Homo sapiens: one gene and its partner. The protein of the gene in region 1 interacts with the protein of each later gene in a pairwise test. Each region holds a gene or a part of one and is shown on either strand. Other genes may lie near its edges. The genes, in order: SPRR2D and USP13.

Region 1 (3,660 bases):
AATGGCTGTACAGGTGGTATTAGGTTTTCTGTTTCTGATTTTGTTGGCTTAGCATAATGGCCTCCAGTTTGATCCACTTTGCTACAAAAGACATGATCTAATTTTTTTATAGCTGTGTAGAATTCATGGCGTATATTTATCACATTTTTAAAATCCACTCTACTATTGATGGGCTTTTGGGTTGATTCTATGCCTTTGCTATAGTGAACACGGCTGCGATAAATATACACATGCATGTGTCTTTATGGTAGAATGATTTATATTCCTTTGGGTATATACCCAATAGTGAGACTGCTGGGTCAAATAATAGTTCTGTTTTAATGATGATGTACTGCTGCTAATAGACTACTATCAAATGAGTAGTAATGATATGTCAGAAATTGTGTCAACTGAATTCCTGATATTAATTCCATTTTATGCCTAAGATAAGTTAGTGATATAAATATTATTTTCCACATTTTAAAATGAAGAGATTAAAATTCTGATTGATTTGTTCTTCAAATCAATCAAACACTAATTAAGGAAAATAAAAGGGGTTTAAAATGATATAAAAATAATCATTGTTATGGCCCAAAATTCAGATAACAATAATTGTGAAATCCTGGTCCTGGGGATCAGAGAAAGGTAGAACAAAATCCAAATAATCATATAATATTACTAATAAAGCAGATTCTAAAAGAAACAAAAGATCCATTCACAAATATATATGCATAGATACTTTATTCAGGGAGTGAAAGATAAATGACAATTGCAAAGGTGGTAGAAGCTCATGACCAGGTGACAGACAGACACAGAACACATCAACAGAATTGTCTGATGGTTCCCAGGGAGAGAGCTGCTGCTCTTTCTTCCGAAGCTCTGGGAGCTGGCACAGCTGAGGACTTCCTTTTCTTAGCTCCACCTGGACAGTGGCAGTATGGCAGCCTCAGAAAGGGAATCTTTTGCTGTCACAGATCATCACAGGCAGGCCACAGGTTAAGGAGAAAGAAGCTCCCTGTGCATCCATGGAAGGCTTTGGTGAGAAGATGCAAGTGGAGCTGTGGAACGAGGTGAGCCAATTATCCTTATCCTCTCATGCTCCTGATGAATCCTGAAGCTGTTACTTGCTCTTGGGTGGACACTTTGGCTGGCAGGGTGGGGAAGGTGTCACAGGAGGATATTTCTGCTGGCACTGCTGAGGTGGGCAGGGCTGTGGACACTTTGGTGATGGGCAGGGCTCAGGGCACTTCGGGGGTGGACATGGCTCTGGGCACTTTGGCGTGGGGCACACAGGAGGTGGCTGGCAGGGCTGCTTGCACTGCTGCTGTTGATAAGACATCCTGCTGGAGTCTCAGGATCTGAAAGAAATGATACAACAGTGTTTGTGGGAAGGGACTCCTCCAGAGAGAGAAGCTAATGCTTATGTAATACCATGAAATATTATTTCCCCATCTCCAAGAAATTATTTAAACTCTTAACTGCCTTTTCAAGACTACTTCGTTTCTCCCTTCCACTTTAGCAAATTGCTTCATTGGCCCTGGGAAATCTTGTGTTTTCTCATACAATTTTTCCAAAGAAAATATCTCTGTAGTAATGAACCAAGCATGTTATTTCTGTGAAAATAACATCTTTAGGAAAGGCAGTGACAAGTTCAGATACCATGAGCAATCTCACAAGCCATTTCTCTTATCATTATCTGTAGTAAAGTCCCAGTGGGTTGACTTGAGCACAGAACAAAGGGCTGTTTGGGAAGGATTGCAGGCTCTTGGCACCTGTTAAGACACAAACCTTTGAAAAAGACACCAGGAAAACATGGGGAAAAAATACTTTGTTCTTTTTTCTTCTTCAATTCAAAGCTTTCCTATTAACTTCTCTGTCCGTATGGACACCTAACTGTATACAAGAAACAAGCTAAAATAGCATATCACTGTACTCTAAATCTAAATTTCCATCTACTAAGTAGAATCAAACCCATGGTTACAGAATTGTATCAACCAAACTTGCTGTTTTCAGATTAAATTCAATATTTCAGGTCACAAAGAACTGAGGAACTCAAGGACTCACACTCACCAGGTTCTCCAAAGCAGATCGGTGCTAGAGTACCAGGAGTTTAAGAGTTGTGCAGCAGGGAACCTCTTTATAGGACGTTCTGCCCCACCCAGTGGGAAGTGGAACTGCCTAAAACTGGGCTGGTCCAGCAATGTCCAAAGTAAAATGCAAATGTATCCATATCTGGCATGAGAGGCATTCTCAAACTAGGAAATATCCTGTTCTGGGATCTCCCCACTGGGTTAAGTGCTCATGAGTCACAGAGAACCTGCCTTAGATCTCAGTTTCAGTGACTTTCGTCAGAGAGATAATTGGAGGGATTCTCTAACCGGTTGTCAAGGGCTCTCTTTCTTGATTGGGAACAATGATCCCTTCCTATCTTACCTCCCCTGAGTCATAAAACTTCCTGTCCTGATCCACTCTAGCTGAATGCCATATTGTTGTACATGAACCCAACTCTACCTCTACTTTCCTCATACAGTTGGCCAATGTGCTAGAAGGAAGGAGAGACTTAACAAAGGCCTGAGCTAAGCTTTTTCTTTGCTAAGTTCCATGACAACAGGCATGTCACCTCTCCTCCCTGGGATTATAAACAGGGGACAATAATACTTACCTCTGGGTTTGCAGGCTGACCACATTGTGCTATCTGCTGACCCTGTTCAAGACTGAAATTTTCTTTGCCACCTTTTTCTCAGATAAAACCTCAGATTTTTACCTATATTCCTTTCCTCTTTGAAGCTGTCTTCTGCACCACATTTGTAGCTTCTGCACCACATTCGTAGAGGCACTTGCATCCCAGGACAGATTTGAGAGTGAGATCTAGTCTCCACAGCACGTTTGCTACTTGGTGCCATCAAGGATGTGTACTACAGCCTTTTTATTTATAAAAAGTAATGGAGAGAAGGAAACTAAAGTTACAAGTATTGACTCAAAATCTATGTATGGAACCATGCATATATGGTTCCCTGTGAACATCCTATAGAGAACAAGCTGCATAGACATTATCATATGTAAATAATTAGAAGTAGGTGTGCAGAGTGAGGAAGGTAAGAGCACTTAAAGTTTAACTCAAGGGGAAAATACAAACAAAGGGTAATCCAATATGTATTCTTCCTCTCTATTTCCAAACAGGTTTTAGATGTTTCTCAGTGTTTTTTAATTTGTTTGCATGTTCTTCCTTTGTCTTTTCCATAAACCTTCTAGTCCCACAAACTGCTAGATTATCAACTCATACCCAATGTATACCTGTCATCTGTCCATTTTGGTACATATTGTTCACTTAACACATATGTTGTCAATGCATTTAGTGATTGTCCTTTCACAACTTTTTTAAATGCTTCCTACAATCAGTGAGCCTTTCTAAGTACTGTATATTAAACATTTAAAGTGATGTTGCTACTGCTTCCTTATCTGGACCATTAATCGGGAAGCTTCCCAAGAACATGGTTTTATAAGTGAATAAGAAGAAAGGAGAATGAGGAAGAGGAAAGACTCAAAATCACTGGAGCAGTCACCAACTGTGCTCCAGGAAGGGCAGAGTGTTGAATCAAGCCAGCATCACATCCCTCAGTTAAGTAGGTTAGGTTCCCAGAACAGCTGTTGCTCCTGTCAGTAAGGAAGAGCTTTTAGCCA
Region 2 (3,825 bases), on another chromosome or scaffold:
GAATAGCACTTTCTTTGGGTAGCATGTGGATAGGAGAGTGGAGAGTAGCTAAGACAAGAAGCGACAGTTTCCTCTTTCACACTAGAATATCCTGTTGTGCTCTGTAGCATCAGACATCGATGAGTCATCAGTGATGCAGCTGGCCGAGATGGGTTTCCCGCTGGAAGCATGTCGCAAGGCTGTGTACTTCACTGGAAATATGGGCGCCGAGGTGGCCTTCAACTGGATCATTGTTCACATGGAAGAGCCAGGTAGGTGGCGAGAAAATGGAATGGCTTTGGAGTCTGATGTGACCCTCAGTGATGCTGAGTCCTGGTCCTTCCAAGGTCCCTGTGGATGTATCCCTAGAAAATGACTTTATAGTTCCTAATCTCCTGCAGTGGAGGAGAAAGCCAGTCTTTTTCTTCTTCTTTTTTTTTTTAAAAACAGCAGCTTTAGGCCAGGCGTGGGGGCTCATGCCTGTAATCCCAGCACTTTGGGAGGCCAAGGCAGGCGGATCACGAAGTCAAGAGATGAAGACCATCCTGGCCAACATAGTGAAACCCCATCTCTACTAAAGATACAAAAATTAGCTGGGCATGGTGGTGCGTACCTGTAGTCCCAGCTACTCAGGAGGCTGAGGCAGGAGAATCGCTTGAACGCAGGAGGCGGAGGCTGCAGTGAGCCAAGATTGCACCACTGCACTCTGGCCTGAGTGACAGAGCGAGACTCTGTCTCAAAAAAACAAACAAACAAAAAAACAACAAAAAAAACCCCAAACAGCTTTATTGAGATATAATTCATCCCTTTAAAGTGTATAAGTCAGTGGCAAAAAGACCAATAGAAAGATACGGGATATACTTCTAACTAAGCGATGATGAAAATTTGAAATGGAAACATGGGCATGAAGAAATGGAGGATGTTTAGTTAGCTTTTTCTTTTATCTACTTTATTAAGCTATAATGCATATATTCATCTGTTTAAAGTGTACATTTCAATGGTTTTTCATAAATTCACAGTTGTGTAACCATTACCACTATCAAATTTTAGAACATTTTGTACCCTTCAAAAGAAATCTCATACATAATAGCAGTCACTCCCCATTTTCCTGCTCACCCCAGCCCCTGGCAACCACGAATCTGTTTTCTGGATCAAGGGATTTGCCTGTTTTGGACATTTCATATAAATGGAGTCATATAATAAAAGGTCGTTTGTGTTTGGTTTCTATCACTTAGCATAGTGCTTTCAAGATTCATCTATGTTGTAGCATGTGTCAGTACTTCATTCCTTTTTACGGTAAAATAATAGTCTGTTGGGTCGGGTTTGGTGGCTTACGCCTGTAATCCCAGCACTTTGGAAGGCCAAGGCAGGAGGATCATTTGAGGTCAAGAGTTCAAGACCAGCCTGGCCAACATGGTGAAACCCCATCTCTATTAAAAATGCAAAAATTGTCTGGGCATGGTGGCGGGCACCTGGAGTCTCAGCTACTTGGGAGACTGAGGCAGGAGAATTGCTTGAGCCCAGGAGACGGAGGTTGCAGTGAGCTGAGATCACGCCACTGCCCTCCAGCCTGGGCAACAGAGTGAGACTCCATCTAAAATAATAATAATAATAACAATAATAATAGTCTATTTTATGGGTATACTATATTTTATTAATCTTTATCAGTTCATGGACATTTGGGTTATTTACATTTTTTGGCTTTTATGAACAATGCTGCTATAAACATTTTTTACAAGTTTTTGTGTGGATGGACATTTATTTTTACTTCTCTTGAGTGGAATTGCCATGTCATATGGTAACTCTATATTTAATTTTGAGGAACGACCAAACTGTTTTACACAGTGGCTGAACCATTTTACATTTCCACCAGTAATGAATGTGAGTTCCAATTTCTCCATATCATCACTAACCCTTATTATTATCTTTTTTATCATACCCATCCCAGTGGGTATGAAGTGGTATCTTGTGGTTTTGGTTTGCATTTTCCTAATGACTAATGATGTTGAACAACTTTTCGTATGTTTATTGACTGTATATCTTATTTGGAGATATGTCTATTCAAATTCTTTGCCCATTTCTAATGAAGTTATCCTTTTATTATTGAGTTCTAAGAGTTCTTTACAAATTCCAGATACGAGTTTCTATGAGATATATGATTTGTGTTTTCCCCCCCATTCTGGTGTTTTTTCACTTTCTTGATGGTATCCTTTGAAGCACAAACATTTTTAATTTTGATGATGTCCAATTTATCTTTTTTTTCTTTTATCACTTGTGCTTTTTGTGTTGTAAATAAGAAACCATTGCCTAATCCAATGGCAAAGACTTACTCCTGTGTTTTCTTCTAAGATTATTATAGTTTTAGCTCCTATATTTAGGTCAATGAGCCATTTTGAGTTAATTTTGTGTATGATGTGAGGTGAGGGTCTGACTTTATTCTTTTGTATGTGGATATCCAGTTGTCCCAGCATCATTTGTTGAAAATAATGTCCTTTCCCCACTGAATGGTCTTGTTGAAAATCAGTTAACCACAGGTATATGGTTTTATTTCTGGAATCTCAATTCTATTTAATCGATCCATATGTCTGCCTATATACCAGTACCAGACTGTCTTTTTTTTTGAGACAGAGCCTTGCTCTCTTGCCCAGGCTGGAGTGCAGTGGTGCAATCTCAGCTCACTGCAACCTCCGCCTCTTGGGTTCAAGCGATTCTTGTGCCTCAGCCTCCCAAGTAGCTGGATTACAGGTGTGCACCACCATGCCCTGCTAATTTTTGTATTTTTAGTAGAGACAGGATTTTGCCATGTTGGCCAGGCTGGCCACGAACTCCTGACCTCAGGCGATCCACTCGCCTTGGCCTCCCAAAGTGCTGGGATTACAGGCATGAGCCACTGCGCCTGGCCCAGACTGTCTTGATTATTATAACTTTGTAGAATCATGTTTTTCCTTGTTAGTGTTGTTTCAGGACAAAAAAAAAAAAAAAAAAAGGAAAAGACTTGGGTGTGGTTATTTTTCTCAGATTTTGCTGAGCCGCTGACCATGCCTGGTTATGGAGGGGCAGCTTCTGCTGGAGCCTCTGTTTTTGGTGCTTCTGGACTGGATAACCAACCTCCAGAGGAAATCGTAGCTATCATCACCTCCATGGGATTTCAGCGAAATCAGGCTATTCAGGCACTACGAGCAACGGTGAGCATGAGAGACTGTGTGTGTGTGTGTGTGTGTGTGTGTGTGTGAATTTATTTCTGTAGCAGTTGAGACTTTCCAATGTACTTTGATCATTTTGATTCATGTTTGATTCATCTAACTGTGAATCTCATCATAGCCCATAAAGATTTATTTGCATATTATAAATATAAAGCTAAAATGAATGATTTTCACACAGCGAATGAGATAAATAAATCTGGGGTAATATGAGCAAACTGAAAGAAACTTGATATCATCTTGAATGTTTGTTAACAGGGGGTCAGAAATTTGACTTGGAGGCTGCTTGTGGCCCTAGAGGAAAGAGGGATGCATGAAATTCCATGTTCAGTAAGAAGTCCTTTAGGAGATAGAATGCTTTTCTGATACCAAGACCTTGGGTAAATGTCTCTTAAAAGTCCTCATAGAAAACTGAATGGCTCCTTGGAATTCTCTGCTGCTGTTTCTCTCTGCAGAAAGAGAAGGTTCTTCTGGTAGCCATGAACTTCTTGATACCAAGAAACAAGGGACTCTGAAACTACAGGGTAGACAATTCCCTTCTGCAGTGCTGATATCTGTTTAATCTTGAGGGAAGGTACTTAAAAAACAAAACAAAACCCATCCTTCCTGGTCACACCATAATCCATTTTTGAGTAGATATCTGCTC

Evidence for each region.
Region 2: the proteins of SPRR2D (region 1) and USP13 interact in a two-hybrid assay, tested with the Homo sapiens proteins (one large-scale study listed by IntAct).

What each region holds. Positions count from the first base shown.
Region 1 is NC_000001.11:153,039,029-153,042,688, forward strand, and holds SPRR2D (small proline-rich protein 2D), read right to left. Parts: upstream 2,093-3,660; 5' UTR 2,050-2,092; exon of another isoform or gene 2,044-2,049; intron 1,338-2,043; 5' UTR 1,319-1,337; coding exon 1,100-1,318; 3' UTR 704-1,099; downstream 1-703. UniProt on the Homo sapiens protein: Cross-linked envelope protein of keratinocytes. It is a keratinocyte protein that first appears in the cell cytosol, but ultimately becomes cross-linked to membrane proteins by transglutaminase.
Region 2 is NC_000003.12:179,761,005-179,764,829, forward strand, and holds part of USP13 (ubiquitin carboxyl-terminal hydrolase 13), read left to right. Parts: intron 1-107; coding exon 108-251; intron 252-2,997; coding exon 2,998-3,164; intron 3,165-3,825. UniProt on the Homo sapiens protein: Deubiquitinase that mediates deubiquitination of target proteins such as BECN1, MITF, SKP2 and USP10 and is involved in various processes such as autophagy, endoplasmic reticulum-associated degradation (ERAD), cell cycle progression or DNA damage response.